Regions from separate parts of the Homo sapiens genome. Here all the other regions are reported to be linked to region 3. Evidence: microRNA targets listed by miRTarBase, many of them from high-throughput screens and not tested one by one. Region 3 holds a microRNA gene; each other region holds the end of a gene's coding sequence.
What was found. The annotated mature microRNA hsa-miR-212-5p reads ACCUUGGCUCUAGACUGCUUACU and lies in region 3 at 3,238-3,260, opposite strand. An mRNA with a match to its seed (bases 2 to 7 or 8) in the 3' UTR can be bound and repressed. Matches are read on the target gene's strand: a 7mer-m8 pairs with bases 2 to 8, a 7mer-A1 pairs with bases 2 to 7 and ends in A, and an 8mer does both.

Region 1 (5,926 bases), not on the chromosome of region 3:
GAGCCAGTAGGCACCAGCTCCTCCTCCATCTCCCGGGGCAGTGGGGAAGCCATGGCTGAGCTTTCCCTGAGAGTAGACACTTTCATCACATGCGGCAGACCCTCCTTGAGAGCGGGGAGGCAGAGAGGTATGAGCTGGGGTGGCTGCAGACCTAGGAAAAGAGAGAGAAGAGAAGGAAAAAAAGAGTTGGGCGTTGCCAGTAGGTTTAGCAGAGAGAAGTCTCCTATTTCTAACAGAGGCAGAGTGTGGGACAGGAAGAGAGAACTTGGAGTGGGGGGGGGGGGGTAGGAGGAGGTCAAGGGAGGTTCCCAACAGCCATATCCTCAACTCTTCAAAGATCCTCCCCAACTCTTATCTCCTAACCCCAAAGTCCTAGCGCTTCAGGGAGTCACTCACTGCTCCCTCCTCTGACAAGCTCTCCAAGACACCCCACTTACAGTCCCCACAGTGCCCCTTGGGTAGGACGGCCCCGCTGGAGGTGTCTACTCAAAGCAGAGCTAGAGAGCTGCAAAGTATGAAGTCTGTCTGTGAATCACCTCACGGGAGACGGGAAAAACCCGCTCCTCCCCAACCTGGGCTCCGCCCCACTGCCTGCCTCCCCCTTCCCACTCACCCTCCTTCCCTCTCTCCCTCCCTCCCGCAGCTGGGAGTGGTTCCTTCTCCCCCCTCTCCCTGTTCTCCTTCCACATCCCTGCCCCACTCTCTCCCCTCCCTCAGAACTGTCTCATCCAAACACGGAAAAATAAGGAATAAAAAGTAAACATCTGGAATATATTTTTTTCTTTAATTTCTCAATCGCTTGGCTTCAGCTTGGAATTTGATGAGGTAAAGCCAGGGCCTAGTCCTGTTGCCATAGCAATGGCCTCCCACTGGATTTCCAGGGCCTAGCCAAGAGGAAGGAGGAGCCGGCCCAGGCCTGGGCTGGGAGAACGGGACAGGGCTTGAGAACATCCGGGGGGTGGAGTGACTTGGGGGAAAATTCCCTGGGGCTCCACCTTCCACGACAGTCAGGGTGGAGCAGCCACAGCCTATGTATGAAAAGGGGTTATGTGGGCTTCACTCACCAGCCTAGGGTTGGCTTTAAGGAGTTCTGAGGGGGACAGAAGAAATTAAACCAAGAGGCACAGCCTGGTGGTAGAAGCCTGTCACATGAGCTTCAGGATCTGATATACCAAGATTCAGTGCTGGGTGGGTCTACCACTTTCTAGCCCTGTGACTTCTCCAAGCCTCAGTTTCTCCAACTGAAAAATGGGATTATTGAGACCCTGAGGGGGCTTACATGAAATAGTACATGAAATAGGCTTAGCACAATGCCTAGCACATAATAAGTGTTCAACAAATGTTGCCTATTATTACTGTGATTCCATTCAGTGTCACCAATGAGCTAACATCCCTGATAACCACCTCCTCCTCTTCCCTGACCCCAGGCTACCAGCATTCCCAGACCATTCCTTCACTCTCCCAGGCCCTAGTCCTGTCACCTGTTCTTCAGATACTCCAACCACCTCCTCAGTTCCCATCCTGACTCCTGAAGCACTCTCCCACCCACAAAAACATGGAGACCCTGGGGGATAGGGCCCTGCACCTCTCATGCAAGGCGGAAGTTTCCCTCACCTGGTATGCAGAGCCCTGAGGACAACCCAAACTTCTCCAACCTGCAAGGGGCATTGCCTCACTTAAAGTCACCCACTCCAGCTGGTCTGGGAAGACAGCACCAAATCCTTAAAAGGGACCCCCAGTGCTCATCCTCTGCAAAATCCAACACCCCTCCCCTAACGCTGACCCTGCCCCAGGTGTTTCAAAGATGGGAGAGGGTATGAAGACAGTAGAGAAACCCAGTACTGTCAACCCATTGGTCAGTTAACCACCACGGAAGACTGCCCACTGTGGGTGGGTGAATAACTGTGCAGAGCCAGGCCAAGTGTGGTGGGGGGAGGGGCACATGATAGAAAAAATAAAATTAAAACACAAGATTGTTTCCTTGTCCTTGAACATTATTACTAGGAACATAGTGTGGGTGGTTGGAGATGGAAATTAATTGGCTCAGAACCAAAAAAATCCTTTCACCTGGGGTTCTGATGGGCCCCTCTGCGGTATGAGGGGCTGCAGCAATGAAGGCGGGCTCAGAGTCCCCAGGTGCGGAGGTGGCCACAGCAACTCAGAGACCCCAGCCAGGGGCCCCAGGTGACCAAGGCCACCAAGGCTGTGGCCAGAAGCTGCGATTCGCAGCGGTTCTGAGCACTCCCCACCCTCAAGAGACCAGGGGGTAGAGGGTAGCAGGGTAGAAACGAGCTGACCCCTGGCAGATAAGGCCTCCAGAAGGGCTGGGCAGCTCCAGCCCCGGAGGGGACTCGGCGCAGGCGGGGTCGCCCCTATGGACCCCAGGATCTCCAGCCGGATCCGAGGCTAGAGAGGTCGGCAGGGACAGCACGTAAACTGCTGGAAAGAGGGAGGGCCAACGGGAAGATGGAACAGCCCCGGGCAATGGGCTGTCTGGAGGGGCCCAGTGGGGAGCTCTGGACACAGAAGGGACGGCGGCAGCCGAAGAGGAGGAGGAGGAGGGGGCTGCGGTGGCGGCAGAAGCGGAGGACCTGTGAGCGGGCTGTGAAGCAGCCGGCGAACAGACGGTGGGCTGCAGACGTCGATCAGGTGGGGGCGGACTGGGGTGGCTGGGGGCGTGCCGAAGGAGCCGGGGGAGGGGGCTAGCGCGGCCCGGAGGAAGGGGAGGCAGGGGTCCCTCCAGCGGCTCTGCCCGCCCCCGGCCCCGCCCCAAGCCCTCGCCCCCTCCCCCCTTTCTTCTGGCTCTGCCAGCACGAGCTCCAAGCCATGCGCCCTCCGCCTCCGCGCACACGCGCCACCTTCCCCCGGGCCTCCAGCGTCCCCAGCGCCCTCGGCCCCTGCAAACTTTCCTGGTGACCCCCCGACCACCACCACCTCAACCCGAGGTGTCGGCTGGAAAGCACCCACTCCTTCCATGCCCCTCCCCCGCCCCATCCCGGACCCCGCCCCCTCCTTCGCCCGACCGCCCCCGCGCACTCACGCGCTCGCCCGGGGTCCGGCTCCGCTCGGCTCGGGGCCCCGATGCCAGTCCCCGCCGCCGCCGCCGCTGCTACCGCCGCCGCCGCCGCCGTCACCGCGGGACGAAGCCACTGCGAGCCCCGGCGGGGCCCCGCCCCAACTCCGCCCAGGTCCACGCCCCCAGGGCGCTTCATGAATATGCATGAGCCGGTTGGAACCCGGGAGTGGGAAGCCCGTGCAGAATTCGTCCCACCGTCGGCAAACAGGCGCGGCCCAGCACTCAATTATTCATGAGGCTTGCAGATGAGGGGCCCGCCCCAGTCTCAGACCGGGGCGAAACTGACGCAATTCAGCCGGGAGCGCTCGGGTAAAATGGCCACCGAGACGACTGCCTAGAGAAACTGCCTTGGCGGCCCCTCCCGGGCTCCGCCGCCTGCACAGAGCACAGTATCATCGAGCTACGCCGGCAAGAAGGTAGCCGCCGGCTGACTGAAGCGGCTTCCTGATACAACCACCTGAGTGCTGAGAACGCGCGCAACGTGGCCACCCTCCTGTGTCAATTCAGATTTAGAGCCACCGTGAAGAAGTCTGGCAGCTCTGCATTCCTCATTAGTGACCTTTATCTCCTTTTAGGCCCCTTCTCAGACATGGGTTCCTCCCTACACTGAAGTTTGTATACCCCCTTCTTCCCGTAAGAACAAAAGCTTCACATATAACTCCGTACTTTGTTGCACCACCACCAGGCTGCAACCACCACCACTCTACGCACACGCTCATCCTCCCCGACTCTCCAGGCTCAGGTTTCCACTCCCCCGGCTGCGGGAAGGACAGTCAATCCTGATTTCATTATCGAAAGCCTTGGAAGACCCTTGACTCATAGGTAAGGATGCAGCCAAGAGCTGCCTCCCCCTAGCTTGGTTGGCTAATGGAGTGTAACTGGGAGAAACTTCCTAATCAGATCAGCTCTCATTTCTAGACTCTCAGGTGGCCCATCCGGGCAGAGGCGGGTGAAAACCAATGCTCGTCCAGCCGGGAACAGAACAGGATGTACCTCGAGACTTGCTTCCCGGCTGGCCAGGAAGGCCCTGCCCAGTCTGACCAGAGCAGTAAACACCACCAATAAAAGTGGGAGCAACACACCAAGGCTACAAAGAAAGCATGAGGACATGGTTTCCAAAGTCAGTTCCCTTTATTAAATCATTTTCACAGACCAGAAATACAAAATGAAAGTAGAAATAGGCCCCAGGTAGGAGCTACAGGCCTGGCCTCACATGACCCCTGCTCCAGCAACTTGAACAGGACAAGCAGCAGCTACATCCTTAAGGTCGGGAAAGTAAGATGAGGATTTGGATCCTGCATTGCCCTGCCTCCCACCCTATCTCTCCCCAAATTATAAACAGCCATCCTTGGGAAGCAGCAGAGTTAAGACGTCTCCCCACTGCCCTAGTGACATACACACCAACAGGAGAGCATGTTCAGATGGCACAGAATCCAGGGACTGCATTTCATGAGGAGAAACTGGTACCAAAATATGGGTGGGGAGTCGGGGGGTGTGAGAAGGCAAGCGCAAAGAGAACCTTCCTCCGTTTCTACTCATCGGATCCTGACGCTGAGTCCTCTGAGCTGGGGGGAGTACTGGCTAGTTCTTCTTCTTCAGAGTCCTGAAAACCAAAGGTGTCTTAAGGGAAAAGCTGGAGTCCTGGGTGCCCCACCCACTCTTCAGTGAAGGGCCCGCAATTCCCTACCGCCCCCAACTACAGCACCCCCCTTCAGAACCTCAGAATTCCACCATCCACTCCAACTCATTACTCTTACAGACCAACCCCACACAGACACACATGCCCCTCACCCTGCCCAGCCCACAGGCCCCACATTCCTGCCGCACCTCGCTCCTCCTCCTCTTCTTTTTGCTCTTGTTCTCTCCCGAAGAGCTCTCATCACTAGACACAAACTCTTTGCTCTTGAAGCTCTCGCTTAGCTGCCTTGAGGACGACTTGGATGATGAGCCCCTAGAGGGCGTGGATTTCTTTTCCATCTTTACCTTTACTTTCTTCTTCTTCTTTGACTTGTCCCTGTATTGGCAAGAGGGAAGAGGAGCTGGGCCTTCAGGTCCCCTGTCACCATGACCAAACCTCTCCCAGCTTTAACAAGGCCTTTCCCAATCCCAGCCACACAGCCCATTTCACTCTGAACGTAAATAGCTGCGTCAGCCTGGAGGGCACCAAGGGAGAGTATCATGAGTACACCAGAAGAATCAGAGGGCACAGCCTAAAGCAGCCCAATGTGCAAAACCTACTTGATATTTCTTGCTTTATCTTTTAGAGTTCATGCAAACTGTGCACTGCACTCCATAATAGTATTTTTTTCGTTCCCCCATACCTTCAAATAAAATGGTCCAGGAAAAGAGGCCATATTTCCCCAGTGACTTGAATGCCCTATTGTGTCACCCATACTTGGGCAATGGCCTACCCAGGTTTGAGAAGCACTACCCTACTGCAGTCAGAAGCATCTCTGCTGTCTTTAACTTTCCAATGCTCAACTTCGGCCTGTTAAAAAAAAAAAAGTCTGCCACAAAAATCAGTGACTGGGCCATGTTCTCGACACTCACCTCTTAGAAGACTCGCCTCGGCCCCCTTCATATTCTTTCATGGCTTTTTCATAGTCCCTCCTGGCATCCTCAGCCTTGCGATCCCACTCCTGTCTCACACACAGAAAAAAACAGTTAAGAATAAGACCTCTCCCATCTCCCCTCTCCCCTGATGCAGGCAAAATCGATACAGAAAGTCCCACCAATGGCTCATACTGCTCCCCTATCAGTCATGAGACTCGCCACCCCAAGACAGCACCTCTCGCCAGCCCATGAGAGGCATCACCCCTCCTCTGCTGCTACTCACCTCTTTCTTCTCTT
Region 2 (6,019 bases), not on the chromosome of region 3:
TGGGTTAAGCCTGAGTTAAGGGCTATAGTCAGGCTGTCTGTAGCATCCTCCTTGGGTTGATAAACTTTCATCTTCCAATCTGGCCTCCTGAAGTATGGCTAGTCTGCCAGTGACTCTTCAGTGTGGGATGGAAGAGGGCTGTGTGGTGTGAGCCTGGTTCTGAGTCCTACATGAAAGAAGGGGATACAGTAGCCAGAAGCAGATCTTTCCTGGCCTTCAATTGAAGTATGGGTAGAGGGTGATCTGCACATCAGGCAGGGGGAATTCTGCCTGGCTCTGCTTCCCCTCAGACTTCCCACTGTTGAATTCCAGGTATGAGAATCTCGTCGTAGCTTTGGCTGAAAACACAGGTCCCAACAGCCCTGACCATCAACAGCTCACACGTAGGTTCTTGCTCCTCGGCAACGCAGGCTGGAGGCTTCCTCTCCTGTATTCCTTTCTGATTCTGACCTCCAACAATGTCTGGTATGACCCTATCTTCCACTGACATGTATACAGTGTCCCTACTGCTCTGCCTTTTCTTCAAGAAGTCAGACCCTGACCCTGGTCCCTTCCAGAATAACCTCTTTCACAACCATGGCACCCAAAGTCAAAGTTGTATGGGGAGTAAGGTGGGAGATGTTATTCCAGGGGCTGCCCGACTGATAAGTGAGACTGCCCAGAGAGTCCATACTATTGGTCAGAAACAGAAGAATGACCAGCACCTTCGGCGTGTCCAGGCTCTGCTCAGTGGACGCCAGGCAAAGGGGCTGACCTCAGGTAGCTTGCCTACTTCCCCTTCAATCCTCAACTGCCCCATCTTTTATTTTTATCTAACTCCAAATGCCGACCAGCTGCTCTTTTCTTACTCACCCTTCTTCCTGTACTGACCCAGCACATAACCCCTATTTTCTCAGCCTCCCTTTCCTCTTATTCCCATGTATCTTGAAGCTGCACCAGAATAACAGCGCTCCCATCCCCCAGGGCGCTGGTTCCTACGCCAGGGCTGGCTGTTAGTGGTGCCTCCCCATGGGGAGCCTCGGCCCCGCATGTTCTTCCTCTTCACTGATGTGCTCCTCATGGCCAAGCCTCGGCCTCCACTGCACCTGCTGCGGAGTGGCACCTTTGCCTGCAAGGCCCTCTACCCCATGGCCCAGTGTCATCTCAGCAGGGTCTTTGGCCACTCAGGAGGCCCTTGTGGTGGGTTGCTCAGTGTAAGTAATAGGTGGGAACCCTAGACCCAAAATATGTCTCAGATGCTTATGGGCTGGTTTATCTCCCTGGTCTGGGTCCCTTTTCATAGGAACAGAGCCATCTACATTGAGAGAGGATAGCTGGGGCTCGGGCTTCATACCTAGTCATTGTCTCATCCCTGAATTAGCTCCATGGAAACAGCAAGGGCTTCAGCTTTAGCCTGGACCTTTCTGAGCCATGCGCTAAGAGGTGGTCTCTCTCTAGCTGTCCTTCCCTCATGAGAAGCTACTGCTTATGTCCACAGACCAGGAGGAGCTGTCACGCTGGTACCACAGTCTGACTTGGGCTATCAGGTAAGTTGTGTCTTCCCCCAGGAAGGGTGCTGTGATGAGGCCCACAAGCAGGAAATATGCAGTTCCTGTCTCATGCCCTACATTGGTCTGGCACACCCCAGCCACCAACCCCCAGATGATTTTGTCTGAATAAAGCACTCATACCAGTGCCTGAACTGACTGTCTTCTCTCCACAGCAGCCAGAAAAACTAGAGGAATCTTATAGATTCCAGAACTCAGGATACCTCAGGGATAGGTCACAGCCAAGAGTACAAAGGAATCTTCAGTACTGAACAAAACAGAACCCTTCATGATTTGACAAAGGTCACTTTCTGTTTGCCTGGACCAAGCTACTCCAGATCATCTGACCAACTCTTAAAAATCACGGCCAGGCACAGTGGCTCATGCCTGTAATCCCAGCACTTTGGGAAGCAGAGGTGGCAGGATCATTCCAGCCCAGGAGTTCAAGACCAGCCTGGGCAACACAGTGAGTGAGACCCTGTCTCTATTTAAGAAAAAATAATTAAGAAATTTTATTAAAAAAGAAGAATCAGGAAACCAAGTCCAACCCAACTAAACCTCAAATGAACCAGCCCCTAACACAGATGAGGGGATTTGGGACTGATAAGCTCTGTGCTGTGTCCATGGCCCGTCATTTATCAAGGCTGCAGCTTTGTAAATGTGGCTATTTTTATGTTGTGTATAGTTTCTATCATTTATTTTTCCACTGGATTTGAGTAAAGTTTTTTTTCTTTTTTTTGGGAAAGACCCTTCTGTCTCAGTTTTGCTATGAGAAAAGGGATTTTTGGGCCCTGAACGCGGGCATGCTGGTGGCCTCAGGAATACGAGGAAAAGAGCTGGAGCTCCCTCTATCTTCTCTGCTGTCACACTGGAAGGCAGCCTCTTTTTGTCCTAATAAGGACAGCTCTTCAAGAAGGCCCAGTTGTCCTTAGGCACCTAGTATGGGTGTGTACAACCAACTAGGATCGAAAAAACACACAGGAGCACTCCATCATGAAAACAGACTTTGTTTTAGTCGACCTTCAGCTGTCGTCCCTCCTTCCCAGCCAAGGCTGTGACTGGGGCCCTTTGCCACAGCCTGGCTGCACCTTCTCCGTAGTCCCCGCCCCACCTCCCAGGAAGTAGCTAGGTTCCATGTCTCTGTGCTCCAGTTTGTGGGCTCCTCCCAGGCCTGACTGTCACCAATCTCCTCCTCGTCCTCCTTTAAACAGAAGTCCTCAGGAAGAGGTCTGCTGGCCTCTGTGTGGGGAGAGATCAGGAATGTTCCAGTTTCAGAGACTTTGTCTCCACCTCCAGCAGACTCGCCTCCCGAGCCTTCACCTGGTTCTGAAGCCTCCATATCCTTGTCCGGCTTGCTATCTTGCAGCAGCTCGTGGATGGTCCATAGCTTCATGTTCAGAAGCTCCTGCTGGGCTCCAGCCAGAGTAGTCACACTGAAGAAATGTCCACTCAGTGGCTCCCAACCTATGTCCCCATTCCTCCCTCCTGCCACAAATTCCCCAAAAATTCACAGAATCATTGCTCTCCTCACCGCTCAAAAAGGGGGTCCAGCTGGGCCATCAGGTTGTTCAGGTGCTGCTCTGTCTGGGCCAGCTGTTGTGTCAACTGGGCCAGCTGTTGCTCTGGGGATAAGGGAAAAAAGGGGGCAGAAGTGGTTATGTATCTTCTGCTGTCCCCTAAACTCCCCCGACCCAGCACAGACTTCTGCTAAACCCACCTGACTGCAGTGGCTGCTGCTTGCTTGCCTCCTCGTGGAGAACCGCAGTTTCATCTTTCCCCTGTTGTGGAAGAAGGAAAGGGCAGTACTGAAGCAACAAGGTTCTGCTCCATCACCTCAGTCTCCAGAGCCAGCCAAGAGAGAGTGCAATTTGAGATGGAGACAGTGATTGGGTTTTTACCTCAGAGAATCACAATCCTAGTCTATCTAGCTCCTCACCCAGCATATGAAGCGACGTCCTATGTCCCACACATGGTCAGTTTGCTGAAACACCTCCAGGAATGAGCAACTCCCTCCGGTTTGAAAAAAGCTCTGGTGGCTGAGTGCTGTGGCTCACACCTGTAATCCCAGCACTTCGGGAAGCCAAGGTGGGTGGATCACCTGAGGTCAGGAGTTTGAGACCAGCCTGGCCAACACGGTGAAACCCTGTCTCTATTAAAAATACAAAAATTAGCCGGGCGTGGTGGCAGGTGCCTGTAATCCCAGTTACTTGAGAGGCTGAGGCAGGAGAATCGCTTGAACCTGGGAGCCAGAGGTTGCAGTGAGCCGAGATTGCGCCGCTGCACTCCAGCCTGGGTGACAGAGCGAGACTCCATCTCGAAAAAAACAAAAACTTTGGTTGTTAGACAGTTCATGCACAAAGCCAAAATTTGTCCTTTATGTATCTTCTTTCCATAGTGCTTACTGGAGCCTTCCAAAATAATGTCTCCTCAAGGTGACAGCCCCTCAGGAATTTGAAGGCAATGGTCACACCCTCACCCACTTTCCTGAGTTTTTTCTGGTTTATTAACGTCAGTCTTTACAGTCAGTGCTCATTGACGGTGGTTTTCTCTGGTTGTTTCCTGAACACGTAGTGCTCTTAAAGCAATGCCCTGAGGAGAATACAATTCTCCAGGGGCATTCTGATTGGCAGGTGAAGCACAGTGCCATGTTCCCAGCACTGATTTGGGAAGTGGCTTGTCACATCCCACAGTGAACTCAGTCAACTGGAATGCCTAACTCTCTTTCATAAGACCTCCTGCTACATTATGTTTCTCCCAGACTGTACTCAGGTCCAAGAACAGAATTTACTAGTCTATCCTTCTCAAAGTTCATCATTAAATTCAGTCATTCATCCTAGCCTGTCACATCTACCTGGGGTCATTATTAGCTATCTCTTCTAGTTTCATATATCTAAACTGGTTCCATCGGTTCTATTTTATAATGCAAGTACGTAATAGGGTCACGGCTAAAGACACAGCCCTGGAAGGTACTGTTTTTCAAAATGTACTGTCAACTTACATTTCAGGGCCTCCTCCCAAGGAGAACATGAGACCACTTCATATCTGGAACTCTAGAAACACTGGCTGCAGCAATCAACCTCCTGTGCCAAGGCTGGCCCCACTCTTGTAGCATGGACACTGCTAGCTGGGTTCAAATCCCAGCTCCAGCAGTTGCCAGCGCTGGGTGACCTCGAGCAAGTGACTACTCCTCACTGGATTGTAGGAGAACTAAATGTGATAGTCATTATTTACAGTTCACCACACGCTCTTCACATCCGTTACCTCCCTGGATCCTCAAAATAACCTCATAATATTGGAAGGCCAACGGACTACTGTCTTTATTTTACAGACAGGGAAGCTGTGTCTTGTTCTTGGTACCCTGGCACCCCCATGGGAGATTCGGGCTCAGGGGATCCCCACGCCCGGCGGTCCCGCACCTGCAGGGGCACCCCTACCCCCGGCCGCCCCGTACCTGCAAACACTTGTACAGCACAAAAGCCGCGACGGCCGCGGTGTACAGCGCCCCCAGAGGCAGCGACCCGGCCCGGGTCCGCTCGCGTTGATCCTTGAGCGGTGGTCGCCGCCGGGGTTCCGTGGCTCCAGAGCCGGGGTGGGCTGCGTTCCCTGCGGAGGGAGGATACAGGCGAGTCAGCCGAGCTGGGGCCTGGGACCCGTGCGCAGTCCCAGCCCTCCTCCAGCAGCCCTAGCTGGTACCTGGGTGTGCCCGGAGGTCGGGATTGGCGCGGTCTCCTAGGACCCCGGACAGCGCAGACACAAGCAGCAGCCCCACCACACCCAAGAGCGAAACTGCGCCCGCCATTGCCGGCCCACGGGTGGAGGGATCGGGCGGGCGGTGCCGAAGCGGTCCGGCATTGGCCGGCCGCCCCAACGCGCACGCGCACGCGAGCAGGCCGGCCGGCTCCGGGGAGGCCACGCCCACTCCCCGTAGGGCGGGGCCAGACCATATTTGCATAAGATAGTGTCATTCTAGCTTTCCTGTATTTGTTCATTTCGTGTCTATTAGCTATTCTGCTAGCCACAATGCCTCTGAAAGCCTATAGTCTTAGAAAGTTATGCCCGAAAACGGTTTTTTTAATCTCACGCCACCAACTTTCTCACCCTAATCATAAAACACAATTTCTTTAGGGCTATAAAATACTACTCTGTGAAGCTGAGGACGTGGTTCGTGCTGAAGGCCTGTATCCTAGGCTACACACTGAGGACTCTGTTCCTCCCCTTTCCGCCTAGGGGAAAGTCCCCGGACCTCGGGCAGAGAGTGCCACGTGCATACGCACGTAGACATTCCCCGCTTCCCACTCCAAAGTCCGCCAAGAAGCGTATCCCGCTGAGCGGCGTGGCGCGGGGGCGTCATCCGTCAGCTCCCTCTAGTTACGCAGGCAGTGCGTGTCCGCGCACCAACCACACGGGGCTCATTCTCAGCGCGGCTGTTTTTTGTTCCCGAGACCACGGCTCACTGCAGCCTCGACCTCCCCGGGCTCACGCGATGCCTCACC
Region 3 (6,029 bases):
AAAACAAACTACAAAAATTGGCTGGGGGTGGTGGCACACACCTGTAGTCCTAACTACTCAGGAGGCTGAGACAGGAGAATTGCTTGAACCTGGGAGGCGGACGTTGCAGTGAGCCGAGATCATGCTACTGCACTTCAGCCTGGGCAACAGAGCAAGACTCCATCTCAGAAGAAAAAAACAAATAAAATTATATATATATAACACATATATATTTTATATATATTAGGCAATAAATATATATAGCTTAAACCTTACAACTTCATGTTTAATCTCACAACTTCATGAGGTAGGTACCATTATTATTATTATTATTTGAGACGGAGTGTCACTCAGCCACCCAGGCTGGAGTTCAGTGGCACGATCACGGCTCACTGCACCTCCGTCTCCTGGGTTCAAGTGATTCTAGTGCCTCAGCCTCCCAAGCAGCTGGAATTACTGGCAAGCACCACCATGGCTGGCTAATTTTTTGTGTTATTAGTAGAGACGGAGTCTGACCATATTGGCCAGGCTGGATTATTATTAAGACAGGGTCTACCTCTGTCACCAGGTGCAGGATCATGGCTCACTGCAGCCTCGACCTCTTCGGCTCAAGTGACCCTCCCGCTTCAGCCTCCTGAGTAGCTTAGCTGAGACTACAGGTGCCACCTATCACACTGGCTTTTTTTTTTTTAAGACATGGGGTCTCACTATGTTGCCCAGGCTGGTCTCGAATTTCTGGGCTCAAGCAGTCCTCCAGCCTCTGCCCCGCCCCGCAAAATGGTGTGATTACAGGCATGAGCCATGTCTCCCAGCCCTAAATAATGATTTTTTTTTTTTGAGACAGGGTCTCACTCTGTCATCCAGGCTGGAGTACAGTGGTGCAATCACAGCTCACTGCAGCCTCAACCTCCCAGCCTCAAGCAATCCTCCCACCTCAACTTCCCAAGTAGCTGGGACTACAGGTGTGCACAACTAATTTTCTTTCTTTTCTTTCCTTTCTTCTTTCCTTTCTTTCTTTTTTGTAGAGATGGGAGTCGCATTGTATTGCCCAGGCTGGTCTCGAACTCCTGGGCTCAAGAGATCCTCCCACCTATGCCTCCCAAAGTGCTGGGATTACAGGCGTGAGCCACTGTGCCCTGCCCTAAATGATTTCTAAGATGCTAAACAACCCTGACGTACGGTCAATCCTCTGGTTCTTTCCCCTCTGACCACATTCTGACCTCTTCTCAGAATATCCCAACCATTTCTGTTTTCCACCTCTGATTCCACCTTGGATTCCTAGAGCTCTTAGGAGAGAGAACCCCCTTAGCAAGGAACCTCTCAACAGCCCCAGGCCCAGAGTGAACCCGGGAGGCGGAGGTTGCAGTGAGCCGAGATAGTGCCACTGCACTCCAGCCTGGGCGACAGAGCGAGACTGTCTCAGAAGAAAAAAAATAAAAGTATATGTATGTATAACATATATATAATATAGATTATATATATATTAGACAATAAATATATATAGCCTAAAGCTCAAGGTGTACCCCCCACATCCCGTTCATTCTGCCTAAGTGCACAGAGCTGGGGTCCCCTCCCAACACCACCCCTTCACAAACATGTAGTAGCCTAACAGAATACTTAAGATCAAAATAACATTCTGCTGTTTTTGGATTTTTACTTACATGATCCTATTTAATCCTCACAGTGCACCTGCCGAGGAGAAGAGATTATTATCCCGTTTTACAGAAAGCTCAGAAACAGAATATGGCCCCTTAACCACCAGTTGCTGATAATGCCAGGTTGGACCTCTGGCTTCCCAGAGCACTACACCCAGCAGTCCACTGCAGTCCACCCACTGACATCCCCTGGAACCCAGAAGCAAGTGCGTTTTAATCTGCAAGACCTCGGGGCCCTGGGGAGGTGGGATGGCTAGCATGTGGGTGTTGATTAACTGGGAAACCGGCACGAGTGTCTTAGAAGTACTTCACAAAGGAGCCGGGTGGGGAGTGAAGGAGGGGGTGGGGCGTGAGACGTTAAGAAAAATTGGATTAACGTGTCGTGGGCTGGGTTGCATTAACCATTCCCAACACTATCTCTGGGGAAGTCTCACACCTGATATTCAATAGACATCCCCTGTAGTGGGTGATGTTGGCAGAGGCAGGCGACATATACAATAATATTTTTAGAGATCCTTGTTCACACTTCATCCGCACCAGAGGACTTCAGCCCCTGTGGTATTCACTCCTCTTTAGGGCTAATTTGAGAAACTGTCTCAGATTGGAATCCAGCACCTAGAGATAGGCTGAGGTGAGCAGGCTGATCTGTTCAGACGCTTCGCGGACCAGGTTAACTTTACAAGCTCATTGGCTTCCAGAGGGTTGGGGACCCTTCTTATCCTCCTAGCTCAGAGGGAAAGATTCAAGAGTTTACTCTTCGCCCAATGCCCACTTCAGCTAGGGGTTCCTGGAAGAACGGGGCTGTGGAGTATCTCAGAAAACTTTCCTCCCTCTACTGTCTTCAGGCCCCAGGAGACAAACCTCCTTCCAAGCCTCCTGGTCCCAGTGGCTTCCCTCTCACCGAAATCGAAAGAACCCGAGTCCCAGCCCGACCCCTTCTCTCGCCGAGCCCTGGCTGGGATACCTTGGCCGGGAGGACAGGACGGCCTCAGGCTGGCCGCCAGACGCACTCCGCAGGACGCGCGCGCTCGAGCCTCGGTGGACTCAGCCGCCGGCCCCGGGAGGCCGCCTCCCTGCGCAGCACCTCCTGCCACCCGCGCGGGCACGTGGGATCTTGACTCGCCGCCCCCGCCTCCTTCTGCTCCGCGTCCCCAGCCCGCGGCTCGGGGCGCGGCGTGGCGCGGCGCGTGGGCGTGCTGCGGGGCGACCATGGCTGTAGACTGTTACCTCCAGTTCCCACAGTAACAATCGAAAGCCACGGTTGCCCTGGAGACGCGGGGGCGGGGCGCGCGGACGGCGCCGGCGCGGGGCGGGCTGACGTCAGGGCCGCGGGGGGGCGGGCGGGGCGGCGGGGGCTGAGGAGCGCGCGTGGGCCACCGCCCCTCGCAGCCCCTAGGGACCCGGACGGGGCGGCCCGATGGCGGCGCCTGCGTTGATCAGCACCGCGGACAGCGGCGGCGCAGGCAGCGGGCCGGGGGCGGGGCCCTGAGGGACGGGGACTGGGGGTCCCCGGGCGCGGCGGCGGCGGCCGGGGCCGCGGTCCTGGGGCGGGGCCAGGCGTCGGTGGCCGTGACTGGAGACTGTTACTGAGGGCGGCCCGGGCAGTAAGCAGTCTAGAGCCAAGGTGCCGGCGCGCTGTCCGGGCGGGGTGCCCCGGTCGCCCCGGCTGCCCCGGCTGGGGGCTCTGCTGCTCCGCCTCCCCTGCGTCTCCCGCCCTGCCCCGCCCGGCGCTCGCGACCAGGCACGCGGCCCCTGACGTCAGAGGGCCGTGACGTCAAAGATGTCCCAGAGGGGGCACTTCCGGCGGGGGCGTGGGGGCGGGGCGGGACCTGGGAGGCCCCGCCCCCCCGGTCCTGAGAGGACAGCTCCGCTCGCAGAGGCGGGAAGCCGTGGGCGCCGCGGGACCCGCTGGACGGGACCTGCCGGGAAGGGGCGCCCGACGCCATGCGGGGCGGGGGTCCCAGGAGGGCCGGGGAAGCGGGGGTGGGCGTCCGTCTCTCGCCTGCACCCCCGCTCAGCCGGCCCGGGCAGCGAGGCTGAGTCACCGCGCCGCAGGGAGGGAGAGGAGGGGGCGCGTCTCCTGGGGCGCCAGCACCTTCGCCTCACTTTCCTGGGAGAATGGCGCAGGAGCCCCAAGAAAGCCGGGGGGGGGTCTCCGAGGTCGGTCCTCCACTCGATGCTCCTCCGAAGTAGCTGCGTGTCCATCGGGCGCCGGCAGGTGCTGCGCGGGCTCGTGTCGTCTCTGGCCCCGGCTCCGCAGCCGCGAGGGGACCCCGGTGCCCCCCGTCCGCCCCCATCCCCACCCCGGAGGGGCCGCCCCACCCGCCGCCTGCCCGTCCCCTCCTCGTCCTCCCGTCCGTGTCCGCACATCTGTCCCTCCGCGGCTGGTCCGTCCCGCTTACCTGGCGGGCCGCGTCGCCACTGCCCGGTCGCCTCCCGCAGCCTGGCCGGCGCGGCGGCTTTTATAGGCGCGCGTAGTACTCGTGCGGCGGCTCATTCATGCGGCCGCGGCTCCTACACACTGACGCGCTGCCGACGTCAGCGGGGAATTTAGGAAATGGGAAAAGGGGCTATTTATAGTGGCGAGGCGGGGGGTGGGGACCGAGGCGACCGGGAGGGGAGGAGGGGGCGCGGAAGCGGCGGCGGGGTAGGGGGAGCCGCGCCCCTGCCCAGCCGACAAGGGGTTAACTTTCCGGAACCGCGGGCCTGGGGCCGGGGAGGCGGCGCGGAGGGGCGCGGCGGGCCCTTCGAGCTTATTCACGCTCTCCTTCCGGAGCCCCGCGGCTCCTGGGGGTCTTCACGTGGCAGCCCCTTCCCCCTCCTCAGTTCCTGGACCTGACGTTTCTGCCGTCACACCCCGCAAGGCCACTGCGGTGTCGCCACCCTCTCGTCCTGCAGGGTGGGCAGGAGAGGAAGCTGGACTCCCGTGGGGGCCTGGGGCGCAGCGAGGGCTGTGGCGTCGGGGGCCGGGAGAAGAAGAGTAGGGGAGCCCAAAGTAGCCCAGGAGTCTTTAGCGGAGGAACCTGGGCCTGGGAGGGAAGGCCCAGCGGGGATTCAGGTACCACCCAGGAGCTGGAGACCCGAGGGACGGCAGAGAAGTTGGGGAAGGTGGGCCAACCTCCCCAGAAATGATGAGCAACGGGATCCTCTATGAGGGAGCTGGGGGAACGCGCCAGAGGTAGGGGTGAGAGGAATGGGCAGCCTCAGCAAGGGAGAGAGGAAAGGCTGTCAGTGCCACGCTCCAGAGCCTGGCATCCAGGACCCACCTTCGGACCATTTGTGGCACGATGGACGCTCCCAGAGCTCACGTTAGGGTAATAGAGAGTGAAGGAGACCAGCAGCTTGGCCAAGAGGGGCCCCCAGGGGATGAGGAGGACGGTTTCCTGGAGAAGTTAATGTTCCCGGAGACCAGAATTGGCAGGGAGAGCCCATGACTTGTGGGGCAGTTCCCCTGGTTGGGAGCGGGGAAATGCATGGTCCTGGCCCAGCCTGGCTCCATCGAGATGGAGGAAGGGTCTAAATGAGAGGAGTGTGTTCAGACGAGGAGCTGGACCAGGATGGGGAGGGCTGTGCAAGGCATGGCCGGAAGAGCGGGGCAGGGAGAGAAAGGTCGAAGAGTGAAGTGCACAGGAGGGCAAGGCGGTCCTCACCCTGCCTGGGCTGGGGCAGGGCTGTGAGACCCTCCCTTACAGAAGCAATGAGGGCTTGAGGAGGGGGTTAGGGGCCTGGGCTGGGGCAGGGCTGTGAGACCCTCCCTTACAGAAGCAATGAGGGCTTGAGGAGGGGGTTAGGGGCCTGGGCTGGGGCAGGGCTGTGAGACCCTCCCTTACAGAAGCAATGAGGGCTTGAGGATGGGGTTAGGGGCCTGGGCTGGGGCAGGGCTGTGAGACCCTCCCTTACAGAAGCAATGAGGGCTTGAGGAGGGGGTTAGGGGCCTGGGCTGGGGCAGGGCTGTGAGACCCTCCCTTACAGAAGCAATGAGGGCTTGAGGAGGGGGTTAGGGGCCTGGGCTGGGGCAGGGCTGTGAGACCCTCCCTTACAGAAGCAATGAGGGCTTGAGGAGGGGGTTAGGGGCCTGGGCTGGGGCAGGGCTGTGAGACCCTCCCTTACAGAAGCAATGAGGGCTTGAGGATGGGGTTAGGGGCCTGGGCTGGGGCAGGGCTGTGAGACCCTCCCTTACAGAAGCAATGAGGGCTTGAGGATGGGGTTAGGGGCCTGGGCTGGGGCAGGGCTGTGAGACCCTCCCTTACAGAAGCAATGAGGGCTTGAGGATGGGGTTAGGGGCCTGGGCTGGGGCAGGGCTGTGAGACCCTCCCTTACAGAAGCAATGAGGGCTTGAGGATGGGGTTAGGGGCAGTAAGTTAACTTGGGGAGCGGATGTGGGGGAACGCTGAA
Region 4 (5,951 bases), not on the chromosome of region 3:
AGTGAAGTATTGTGAGAGGTTAAAAAAATCAACAACAACATTTAGTAAAATCTTAACATCCTTAGGGAATGGCTGTGTCATTCCTGTTGCATGATTGCCTGGAAATGCTCTGATTCCTGCCCTTTTCCAGGGCCATTTGCCAACTCTGTAACCCTGCCTTCCGGCCCTTTCTGTGAGGCACTGTGATATCATCATCGAAGTAACTTTTGTCTACCCTAGATAAATTGGGTCTCTCTCTTTTTTATTTTTTTAACAGCTTTATTGAGATACAATTAACATACCATACGATTTACCCATTTAAATTGTACAATTCAAATTTATGTAGTATGTTCATAGGGCTTTTTAACATCACCACAATCAATTTCAGAACATTTTTGTCACCATAAAAAGAAACCACATACCCATTTCCCCTCAACCTCCCAGCATTAGGCAACCACCAATCAATCTACTTTCTGTCTCTATGGATTTACCTATTCTAAACATTTCATATAAATGGAATAATAAATTATGTGGTCTTTTGTGATTGGATTCTTTTCTTTTTTTTTCTAAATTTAATTTAATTTTAAGCTCTGGGATACATGTGCAGGACGTGCAGGTTTGTTACACAGGTAAATGTGTGCCATGGTGGTTTGCACCACCTATCAACCCATCACCAAGATATGAAGCCCTGCATGCATTAGCTATTTATCCTGATCCTCTCTCTTCCCCTGCCCCCAACAACAGTCCCCAGTGTGTTGTTCCCCTCCCTATGTCCATGTGTTCTCGTTGTTCAGCTCCCACTTACAAGTGAGAACATATGGTACTTGATTTTCTGTTCCTGCATTAGTTTGCTAAGGATAATGGCTTCGAGCTCCATCCATGCCCCTGCAAAGGACATGATCTAGTTTCTTTTTATGGCTGTATAGTATTCCATGGTGTATATGTACCACATTTTCTTTATCCAGTCTATCACTGATGTGCATTTGGGTTGATTGAATGTTTTTGCTATTGTGAATAGTGCTGCAATGAATACACACATGCATGTATCTTTATCATAGAATGATTTCTATTCTTTTGGGTATATATTGGGTTTTTCTTGACAGCAAAGAGCCTGAATTGATACAAAGGTGTTTATGTTAATCTTTTAAGTTTGCTTGTTTATTACATATGTATTGCATGGAGGGCCAGCACTTTCTAAGTGCATAATAAATATTAACTCTTTAATCCTCACAATAATCCAGTGAGCTATTTACTACTAGTATCTCCTTTTTACAGATGAAACAGTACAGGGGAAGGATGAGTAGGTTGCCCAAGGACACACCGTCAGCAAGTGGAGAAGTGCAGGAACTGGGCTTCCACTTACAGAGGCTGTGCTACTGAATGCTAGTCTGTGCTGCCCCTCAGTACAAATTACTATGCTTACCAGACCAAAAATAATCAAAGAGCCAACTGTCATCCAGTTTTGAGGATAAATGAAAGGTAAGGCACAGATGATGTAGAGCTGTATTTACTGATGTGACAATGTCCATCTTATATTGTTAAGTGAAAAACATTGATTAGCACATTTTTATTTATGAAGATGGTATACCCACTGCCTCCCCACTCCCTGCCTCCCAAACACACAACCACATTACAAAGCCTAGAATCACTTTCATCAGAATGTCAACCACGGTGATTCTCCTCACTTGGAGAGGACCACCAAGCTCTGGGTTTCTTAGTGGCAGGAGGTATGAAGTGCAACAGCTTGGAGCTTTGGAGGGGATGCTCTGACACGTTCCAGACCATTGAACCCCTGAAAGCTTACCTATATGGCATATCTCTGTATCTTTGTAACGTTTTTCTCCCACCATCTGCAGTGTTTATGACTTACTAAGTCATTCAGAATAGTCAACATTTCTCGCTTATCAGGCTCATGAACATACTGTCATCAATACAGTTGACCAATGTAATGTATTGCAGAGTGTCCAGAAAGCCTATATTGTAACACAGAGCAGGATTCACCTTGCCCTGGAGCAAGACTGTAAAGATATACTCTTGTCCAATCCTTGAGAATGTGAATTTCCTCTCAACCTACATCCTGCCGGATCCTTTAAAAGTGGCATTTCCGTATTAATAGTTGCATATCACTTGCTAAGGCTGTGCTAACCCGTTATAATAAAGATACCACGTTTGACACAGCAACTGTAATAGGGGCTACTCCTTGGTTAAGTTTTAGGAGCCATTTAGCAGCATGAACCACCAGGAGATACCAGAGGGCAGACTGCTGAATTAAAATGGAGGTGTAACTGGGGTAACAACCCCTGCCTCCTCCATGTCTTTGTAGGTGGCACTAATCTCTATCATTCCCCAAGAATGTGATATTGCTTTTAACTTACTTGTTTTCACCATGAAACTTCAGTTTCAGAGGCTTCTGCTTGGCCTTCCCTAAAACAGTCATTGTTATTTCATAGGTTAGGAAACCAGAGGTTAAGGAACCAGGTCAGCCAATTGCTATATTTTATGATGTATGTATGAATGTATATCCTGATTATACATTCAGGAAATGGGGAAATGATTGCTGGGTGGCCTGTGGATCCAGAGGGCCCATTGTGAGATGGACATTACCTCACCTCCACGTACTCTACTCTAACAGGGGCTACGAAAGGGCTTTGAGTCCTCAGGGATTAGCATCAACTGTGATATTGTACTCAACATCCCTTGAAAGATCTGTGTATTTTCCTTTCCCCGGCATGTGAGTAACTCAAAAAATTTGGCCATAGAGCCCTCCCGTGAAAACTTGAGGGAATCAGTGATGCGCACACTTACAAGGTTCTTCCTTATGAGAAACTGCCCTCATTTCCATCAGTGAGTTCTGGATTCCACTGAGAACTGGCTGAGGTTTGGAAGCTGGGCAAGGGGTCTAAGACTTTACCTTTAGATAGCTGACCTCAGCCTTCTGCTCATCTATTTTCAATCTCTTTTGATTATATGTCTAAAGCAATATGTGTCTTGCCTAGAGGAACAGCATGTCCTAAGAGCCATCTTCATGGACACCTACAGGTCAGGCCTCCCAGTTGTCACTCTAACGTTGATGCCCCTTACGGAAATTACTTTATCTTGTCCTCACAGTTAAATGCTGCCACTTGGCCCCTGTTATTCTGGAACTCTATCATTTTACTCACTACTGGGGGATCCAGTTCTATAAAACATCCCTAGCATTATTCCAGCCTGCAGGGGACAGCCACCATTGAGCTTCTTAAGGATGTGCTGCCCCCTCAACAGTGCATTCCTTCTCACCTTAGTTAGTGTCTGAGACACATTAGTAGTGTCCCCTTTGGAGGAACTCAGTCACCTGATGGATGGATTCTCCAGTTGTAGAGTGCAGAGTCATTCTAGCACACCAACTTCTCTATCCTTGGGACCCACTTTTCCAGACTCTGCCACAGTAGTTCTGGTATCTCTGCTTCCACTTGATTTAATGTGTACCATGGCTTATACTTAGTCTCTAGGAGCCACCCAGGAGTATATCAGAATCATCACCTTTGGCCCAAGCCAGGCTAGTTAAACTCTGTGGTAGAGAAGCTTGCCCCTTTGCCAATAATCGTCACTTATCTGGTTTCACATTTCACCCTTCCTGGACCAGGATCCACTCCCAGACACAATCTCCTTGCTCCTGCTGATGCACGCTGGCCAGTCCTACAGCTCCTTCGGAGGATAAATGCTCTCTTCATTTGCTGCCCTCCCCATGATTGTTCACTTTCATTGTCCTGAGCGGTCTCTATACAGTCTTCATTCTAGAAAAATCGGGAGTTGGGTGGGGGTGGTAGCTCTCTCTTCCAACAAGGGGCAGAAAGACTTTTCTGCAAACCCAGTAGGTTCAGGGGGCATCTGGAGTTCAAAGTTCTCATGTACATCTACCTAGATAGCCCCATGCTGAGTTTGAAGGCCTTGACTTTGGCATAAGAGACCATCCTGAGCTTAGAATTCAGTGTTCTCTGAAGTTCTGCGATTCATAAAATCAGGTCTGTACCAGACCTTCCTTGCTGTCTGCCTTCCAGCTCCAGGTATGAGGGTCTCTTCTCTTTAGGTTGGTAATGAATAGATCTAAGCCTGTCATTTACTCTTTTCAAGACATTAATGGCACTTAGTAATACCCACCAAAACCCATATTTCTTATAGTTACTTTTCCTCACTTCTTAAATGCCAGACAATTGTACCAGCTATTTTAGTACATAGCTGTACTAAAATAGCTTGACCTGCAGCTCATCCAATTTACTACAGGTGAAAATTTGGGCAACTGCTCAGTGATAGCACTTCTGGGACTATCCATATTCCACCCAGCATCACTGGGCTAGACAGTGATCCAACTCCAGAATCCTGTCCTCAGAGCTCGCTTCCTGGGGCCATTACTTTAGGTTGCATTCCCCAGAAGCACATTCTGGGATGAAGTCCATTAAGCAAGAGATTGATGGTGAGGGTTTGCTCAGAAGGGAGTGGGGGAAGCTCATCATGTGGGCAAAAGCTAAGCCACGATGTGGCCACAGCTGGAGACTAGCTCCAGCCTGATACCTGGGAGCACAGAGTAGCCACACACCACACCCTTGGTCCTGCTTTGAGGCAAAGGGGCCGGCCTCAGGCCACGGGGCGTCACTTCCAGGTGAAGCTGATTCCATTTAACGAAGGGTAATACTCTGGGGACTGCTGGCATCAGCAGCCACCACTCAGCAGCTGGGGATGAAAAGACCTGGTCAGAAGAGGAGATGGTGCCAGGATGCCAACCGCTTTGCAGGGGAGGGAAAAATGGCTTCCCTCTACCCTGCTAGGTTCTTTGGCTGAGCTACGAATGAATTAAATTGACATAAGTAGATTGACAGGAGGAAAAAAAATTTAATAATATATGTTTGCACAGGAGTTCCACGAAATATGAGACTCCAAGAAGGGTCAGATGATTGACACTCATACACCATCGTGAGCTATCGAAAAGAACGGCAGTTTGGGAGTTCTGCAGGGAGTTGACCACAGAAGTGGGAGAGTGAAGGGAAGAAGTGTGTCGTGAATAAAGCTTGGCTGGTTTTCAGATAAAAGGTCTTGCGAGTGGCCAGGTGTGGTGGCTCACTCCTGTCACGTCCCAGCACTTTGGGAGGCCAAGGCGGGCGGCTCATGAGGTCAGGAGTTCGAGACCAGCCTGGCCAACATAGTGAAACCCCGTCTCTACTAAAAATGCAAAAAATTAGCTGGGCATGGTGGCAGGCACTGTAATCCCAGCTACTTGGGAGGCTGAGACAGGAGAATCACTTGAATCCGGGAGGCAGAGGTTGCAGTGAGCTGAGATCGCGCCATTGCATTCCAATCCCGGGTGACTGTGTGAGACTCCATCTCAAAAAAAAAACGGAGGAAAAAGGTCTTGTGAGTAATAAATGTTGTCTGGAGCAGACCTCAGGAGAAGAGGTGAGAGTCTGTCTGTGCTGGTATCACCTCCAATCTCCTTCCCTGTGATCTCAGTTCCTCTTCCCTGGTTGATGAGATTCTTGGGGATGGGATTCATGATGATCAAATTTCTTTTGAGGATTTGTTTTTGGGCAGATGAGGGAGGCTCAGAGAAAAGCCTCTCCCTGCATGTGCTATTTCCCAAGTGCTCTCAGTTTGAAGTCAGTGGCAACCAGTAGCATATTTCCTGAAGGCCTTCAGCATCCACTAAACCAGTCAACTGTTCCCATTTGTTTCCTGAATAGCAAACACTTCCTTGAAATCCTTCTCAAATTCAGCCTCCAGTCTAAGTCCCATTTGGCCAAAATCCTTATACTGGAAAAAAGTAATAAAGACAAAAACGATGTTCCTTATCATTAGTGTCATTAGATACCTTTCAACTGAGAATGATCAGGACTCTTGTCTTTAAAAAATAAAAACTGTAAGTTGACAATTTATAATGGTATGTATTTTGGAGTACAAAGCAGTGTTGTGATTTATGACTGCTATGTGGAATAATTAAATCA
Region 5 (6,029 bases), not on the chromosome of region 3:
ATATTTGTATTTGTAGTAGAAACAGGGTTTCGCCATATTGGTCAGGCTGGTCTTAAACTCCTGACTTCAAGTGATCCACCCGCCTCAGCCTCCCAAAGTGCTGGGATTACAGGCATAAGCCACTGCACTGGCCTAGGTGTGCACTGCAAAGGTTCCACCTTCATCCTCTGGTTATTGCTGTCCCTCCCCTAACCGAGAGGAAAGTGTGGAATGGCTCACAGAAATCAGAAGTCTGAAATCTCTGCTCCTGCCTCCAGGGCATAATGAGCCAGGCTGTTCTTTCCCAGGATCTGTCGAAGTACAGCATAGGCAAACCACCTAGCAGTGTCTGTCAAGTAAGCAACCAAGTTAATAAGTGATTAATACATCATGTTTGCACAAGTAATTATCATTTATTAAGGTGCGGGTGATAGATGACAGATGCAGTGCTAGAACATCATATGTCGGCATAGTTGGATAAATATTTTTCAAACCTTATTCATAGGCTGCTTCAAATCCAGGATTCTCAGGACAGCACAGGACAAGAAAGACAGTGTAATCAAGTCACTATAGACTGCCTAGCCAGTACTCACTTGAAATTAATGGGAGTGAGCAAAGCTAGAACCATGTCATTAGACAAATGTTACGGAGGCTGAATATTTTGTGTCTTGGGCACTAGGTCACTGGGTCTACTTCAGTATTTACAGGGGAATACCAGGGCCCAGATGATGAAAAGTACATTAACTGAGCTTCTACAGCAGGTCAAGGTGCCCAAGCCTTAGCTGTGATCTCTTAACAGTAGGAATAGTCCTGTGTGAGACAATTAAGTTGTGAGGCTGCTGTAGACTATCTTGTTTGCAGTGGGGAAAAGGGAATCGTGTTCTGGGAATACAGCCCCTGGGCCAGTTCCTACCTCCAACAGTAGTTTGTTTTGTTTTGTTTGTTTCTGTTTTTTTGTTGTTGTTATTGAGACAGAGCCTTGCTCTGTCACCCAGGCTGGAGTGCAGTGGTGTGATCCCGGCTCACTGCAGCTTCTGATTCCCGGGTTCAAGCAATTCTCCTGCTTCAGCCTCCCAAGTAGCTGAGATTACAGTCATGTACCACCACGCCCAGCTAATTTTTGTAATTTTTAGTAGAGGTGGGGTTTCACCATGGTGGCCAGGCTGGTCTTGAACTCCTGACCTCAGGTGATCCACCCACCTTGGCCTCCCAAAGTGCTGGGATTACAGGTGTGAGCCACCATGCCCGGCCCCAAAGTAGTTTTTGATGACAGAGTGTCCCCATATCTTCTTTGTTACAAGATACTGCTACGTTTCTCAAAGAAAAAAACTCACTAGGCAAAATGTTCCCACGTTTAAAATATCACCGTTTAAAATGAAGTAAATAGGTTATCGTAGTAGAAACTGGTGGTTCCTCTCCAGCATCCATTCCTCTCTTTGTAACTTTTCCCAATTTTATTCAGGTATCCAACTCTCTCTACTTCTTTGCTTCTGAGTATGCTGACCCCATTTCCACCTCTAGGATGGGCCTTAATTGGCCTGAAACAATTAGGGTAATTCTTTCTTCTATAGTTACTGCTTTAGGGAACTTGTGTTATAGAATGGCATTCCCTGATCACAGGGGCTGGCTTAGAAATTTCATGTGACTTGATTTGGGCTGATACAAGGGAAGGCTGACTGAAAGCTTCTGGAAAATACCAGAGCTCCTAGGAGTGGCCTTTTCTCCTACTGCAGGGGTTGATACGTGAATATGAAACCTGGTTGGCCTTTTGTCTACATGAAACAAGTGGGCCTGAGGATGAAACTGGCACTGCAGAAGATTCAGGGGAAGGAAAGAAAGCTGATTTTTTTTTTTCTTGAGACGGAGTCTGCCTCTGCAGCCCACGCTGGAGCGCAGTTCGCAGTTGTGCGATCTTGGCTCACTGCAACCTCTGCCTCCAGGGTCCCGGTTCACAAGCAATTCTCCTGCCTCAGCCTCCCGAGTAGCTGGGATTACAAGCATCTGCCACTATGCCCAGGTAACTTTTGTATTTTTAGTAGAGACGGGGTTTCACCATGTTGGCCAGGGTGATCTTGAACTCCTGACCTCGTGATCTGCCTGCCTCGGCCTCCCAAAGCGCTGGAATTACAGGCGTAAGCCAACACGCCTGACCAAAAGTTGATCCTTTTTTTTTTTTTTTTTTTTTGAGATGGAGTTTCGCTCCTTTTGCCCAGGCTAGAGTGCAATGGCACGATCTCAGCTCACCGCAACCTCCAACTCCCGGGTTCAAGCGATTCTCCTACCTCAGCCTCCCGAGTAGCTGCAATTACAGGCATGTGCCACCACGCCCAGCTAATTTTTTGTATTTTTAGTAGAGATGGGGTTTCTCCATGTTGGTCAGGCTGGTCTCGAATTCCCGACCTCAGGTGATCCACCTGCCTTGGCCTCCCAAAGTGCTGGGATTACAGGTGTGAGCTACCATGCCCGGCCAGGAAAGTTGATCTTTTATGATATCATTTTATGACATTCTAACAGTGATCCATGTAAAATCCACAAGTAAAACGGCTTTACAGCACACATGGCAATGGTCTTGAGAAAGAGTGGGAAAAGCTCTTAAGACCATGTAAAACAGAAGCACATTTGCAGGCAGTATATGGCACAGTTTAGAAGACAAAGCAGCTGGGCTTAAACCAAGCTCTGCCATTAATGTGCACTGTGATCTCACATAAGCCACCTTTTCTTGCCCTTGATACCTATTTGGTACAAGTTAAGAGTTGTACTAGACGAGTAGCTTCTCTTTCACTGTCTGGGATTTTTTCTTTCTTTTTGAGACGGAGTCTCACTCTTGTCGCCGAGGCTGGAGTGCAGTGGCACCGTGTGGGCTCACTGCAACTTCCGTCTCCTGGGTTCAAGCAATTCTCCTGCCTCAGCCTCCCGAGTAGCTGAGATTACAGGCACCCACCACCATGCCTGGCTAGTTTTTATATTTTTAGTAGAGATGGGGTTTTACTATGTTGGCCGGGCTGGTCTCAAACTCCTAACCTCAGGTGATCCACCCGCCTCGACCTCCCAAAGTGCTGGGATTACAGGCATGAGCCACCACACCCGGCCTGGACTTCTTATATATGAGGTCTTATATATAATCTTACATATAAATATATATATCTATGTATAAAATCTATCTATGTATATCTATCTATCTATAAAGAAAGAGACAGAGACAGATACAGGGTCTCACTTCGTTGCCCAGGCTGGTCTCAAACTCCTGGGCTCAAGTGTTCCTCCTGCCTCAACCTTCCAAAGCGCTGGGATTACAGGCGTGAGCCACCAAGCCCAGCTACCATCAGCAATTTTTATTATTGTTCTTCCTTGTGGATTTTGTTTTTAATGATTTGGTCCATCAATACATCTTTCTCATGTACTTGCTGGACAAAGCGCACAACTGCAGATCAGCTCTCCTGATCAGCAAAGGAAATTAATTTTATTTTCTTTAATAAATTACTATAACTTGACCTGAAGATGTAAAAATATATTATTAGCTTTTGAAACTTTAATATAGATGTAATTTCTGACAAGCTTTTACAAATACTGAAAATAGCTTCCAAGTCCTCTTTCTTCTTTTAAGGATCTTTGGAGATTCATAAAAACTACTGAATTTGCTGATTATTTAAGTTATTAGAGGAAGATGAAAATTCAGTGACTTCTCAAAAATTATAATTCACATTTAATTACAAGTCATGATTTTTCTTTACTTTTTCAACAAAATGGTAAATATAGTCTTTAAAAGATGTAAAAAAAAAATTTTTTTTACATTTAAATAAGCATTTAAAAATCTAAGGTAAGACTACAAAGCAGCATAACAGGTTTTCTGTCACTTGTAAACTGGATTAGAAGGCAATCCCCAGAATTCCAGAACCGTTGTGGAGATATGATTTTTAATTTACAATCTAGAAAAACTGCATTCAACAAGTAGTCCAAGGATTTGGGTTCTAGTTGCCAGCTTGCATGGTACAATCTTGAGTAAGTCTCTCAACTTCTGGATATAGGAAATCAAAGGCCCCCCAACAGAATGAAAGGTGTTAAATCAGGTCATCTTGAATATTCTTCCCAGCTCTGTTATTTTACAACGCCATGAAATCAGAGTAACATGTTCCAGGCTGTTTGGGGTTTGGGATTTTAGAACCTGATGCAATGTATAGCACTTTTTAAATTTCTACTTTTTGGAGTCTTATTCGAATATATACATATATATATGTCCCCCATGTTCTTCTGTGCATGTAGTATATTTTTCTATTTAACAGCCTCTTCACCATTAGCAATAAAAAAGTTTCTCAAGGATGTATTTTTTATTTCTTTTTTTTCGGGGGGAGAGAGTTTCACTCTTGTTGCCCAGGCTGGAGTGCAACGGCGCGATCTCGGCTTACTGCAACCTCCGCCCCCCAGGTTCAAGTGATTCTCCTGCCTCAGCCTCCTGAGTAACTGGGATTACAGGCATGCGCCATCACATCTGGCTAATTTTGTATTTTTCGTAGAGATGGGGTTTCACCATGTTGGTCAGGCTGGTCTCGAACTCCTGACCTCAGGTGATCCGCCCACCACGGCCTCCCAAAGTGCTGGGATTACAGGCATGAGCCACTGCGCCCGGCCTCATTTCTTGCTTTTATGTTTTTTTGGCTTCCTTTTTTAATTTCTCCAAGATCTCTTCTGGAGTTGTAGAAGCCAAAAGCTTCACCACCTTTTCACGAGATTTACCACCCTGGACCAAAAGAGAAAAAGCATACTTTACTGTTTAGCACATTCTAATGCTATTAGAGATAGCAGACCTCCGTTGTATAATGGGCTCTCCTGATGGCTTTCTCTTGGTTACTTCTGGTCTAACCAAAGACTATCTCTTAGATTCTTCCTTACTACCATTTGTTACTAAACATTTGTTAGTACTAACAACTCTCCAGGGTTTTTACCTTCATACATCAATTTCTATAATAAAAGCTGGACATTAAAATCTCAAAAATGGGCCAGGCGCGGTGGCTCACGCCTGTAATCCCAGCACTTTAGGAGGCCAAGGTGGGTAGATCACGAGGTCAGGAGTTCAAGACCAGCCTGACCAACATGGTGAAACCCCGTCTGTACTAAAAATACAAAAAATTAGCCGGGCATGGTGGCATGTGCCTGTAATCCCAGCTACTCAGGAGACTGAGGCAGGAAAATCGCTGGAACCCAGGAGGCAGAGGCTGCAGTGAGCTGAGATCGCGCCACTGCACTCCAGCCTGGGCAACAGAGCAAGACTCCATCTCAAAAAAAAAAAAAATCTAAAAAATGATATTCTAGTCTCAAGCAATTAAGTTAAAAATGAAAATCATCTTTAAAATACCAAAATAAATATTGCAATTTTATATAAACTTTGTAGTAAAATAATTATAAATATAAACAAATTGCTATTCTCTATGTTGTTAAACATTTCTGAAAATTCCAAACAAAAAGTAGCCACATATCCAAGTGCCACGATTTCACAACCACTTAAAACTTTAAAAAGGATTTGTTGGCCAGGTGTGGTGGCTCACACCTGTAATCCTAGCACTCTGGGAGGCTGAGGCGGGTGGATCACCTGAGGTCAGGAGTTCGAGACCAGCCTGGCCAATGTGGCAAAACCCTGTCTCTACTAAAAATTAGCCAGACGTGTTGGCGCGCGCCTCCAATCCCAGCTACTCGGGAGGCTGAAGCAGGAGAATCACTTGAACCGGGGAGGGGCGGGGCGCGGGGCGGATGTTGCAGTGAGCCGAGATTGCGCCATCGCACCCTAGCCTGGGCAACAAGAGCGAAAACACCGTCCCAAAAGAAAAAGAAAGGATTTGTTTTCAAACACAGCCTTTAAAGAAGATAAAATTTGAGAAGGGGTTTATTTAGATGAGTGGAATTTGAACAGGCAGAAGAATGAGGAACATCTTTCAGGCAAACGTCAGCGCATGAGCACTAGCCAAAAATCAGAAATGACCTGCCACAGGTGGGGAGCATTCAAATGGATTTTTAGGTGCAGTCTGTTAATCAATGACTGTGAATGCCAGCTGGAACCT

Region 1: miRTarBase lists SSRP1 as a target of hsa-miR-212-5p. Seed matches in the 3' UTR shown: 7mer-A1 at 4,422-4,428.
Region 2: miRTarBase lists ARHGEF39 as a target of hsa-miR-212-5p. Seed matches in the 3' UTR shown: 7mer-m8 at 2,572-2,578 and 7mer-m8 at 3,606-3,612.
Region 4: miRTarBase lists SP140L as a target of hsa-miR-212-5p. The part of its 3' UTR that is shown has no 7-base or 8-base seed match.
Region 5: the mRNA of C15orf40 is a reported target of hsa-miR-212-5p. Seed matches in the 3' UTR shown: 7mer-m8 at 2,397-2,403 and 7mer-m8 at 1,179-1,185.

Annotation. Positions count from the first base shown.
Region 1 is chr11:57,321,800-57,327,725 of GRCh38, forward strand. It overlaps SSRP1 (structure specific recognition protein 1), which reads right to left. Exons shown (of 17, transcript NM_003146.3): 14 at 5,913-5,926; 15 at 5,627-5,715; 16 at 4,904-5,090; 17 at 4,189-4,679. The coding sequence ends at 4,608. It overlaps TNKS1BP1 (tankyrase 1 binding protein 1), which reads right to left and starts at 3,153. Exons shown (of 12, transcript NM_033396.3): 1 at 3,041-3,153; 2 at 1-151. The coding sequence starts at 86. RefSeq lists a silencer at 2,957-3,236 and enhancers at 3,367-3,416, 3,446-4,319.
Region 2 is chr9:35,657,686-35,663,704 of GRCh38, reverse strand. It overlaps ARHGEF39 (Rho guanine nucleotide exchange factor 39), which reads left to right. Exons shown (of 9, transcript NM_032818.3): 5 at 313-383; 6 at 631-759; 7 at 964-1,193; 8 at 1,438-1,526; 9 at 1,703-4,362. The coding sequence ends at 1,718. CCDC107 (coiled-coil domain containing 107) reads right to left here and starts at 5,413. Exons shown (of 5, transcript NM_174923.3): 1 at 5,220-5,413; 2 at 4,978-5,129; 3 at 3,244-3,304; 4 at 3,058-3,148; 5 at 2,194-2,959. The coding sequence starts at 5,325. The coding sequence ends at 2,518. It also overlaps RMRP. RefSeq lists silencers at 1,659-1,953, 5,291-5,550 and an enhancer at 5,633-6,019.
Region 3 is chr17:2,047,091-2,053,119 of GRCh38, forward strand. It overlaps MIR212 (microRNA 212), which reads right to left and starts at 3,290; the gene lies at 3,181-3,290. It overlaps MIR132 (microRNA 132), which reads right to left and starts at 2,918; the gene lies at 2,818-2,918. It overlaps LOC124903896 (a long non-coding RNA gene), which reads right to left and starts at 2,859. Exons shown (of 2, transcript XR_007065576.1): 1 at 2,071-2,859; 2 at 1,617-1,668. RefSeq lists silencers at 2,614-3,413, 3,424-3,573 and an enhancer at 4,119-5,014.
Region 4 is chr2:230,402,607-230,408,557 of GRCh38, reverse strand. SP140L (SP140 nuclear body protein like) reads right to left here. Exons shown (of 19, transcript NM_138402.6): 19 at 4,826-5,760. The coding sequence ends at 5,662. Among named protein-coding and RNA genes, the nearest start is that of SP100, 11 kb to the left of the region's middle.
Region 5 is chr15:83,000,979-83,007,007 of GRCh38, forward strand. It overlaps C15orf40 (chromosome 15 open reading frame 40), which reads right to left. Exons shown (of 4, transcript NM_144597.3): 4 at 1-4,714. The coding sequence ends at 4,619. Among named protein-coding and RNA genes, the nearest start is that of C15orf40, 7.6 kb to the right of the region's middle.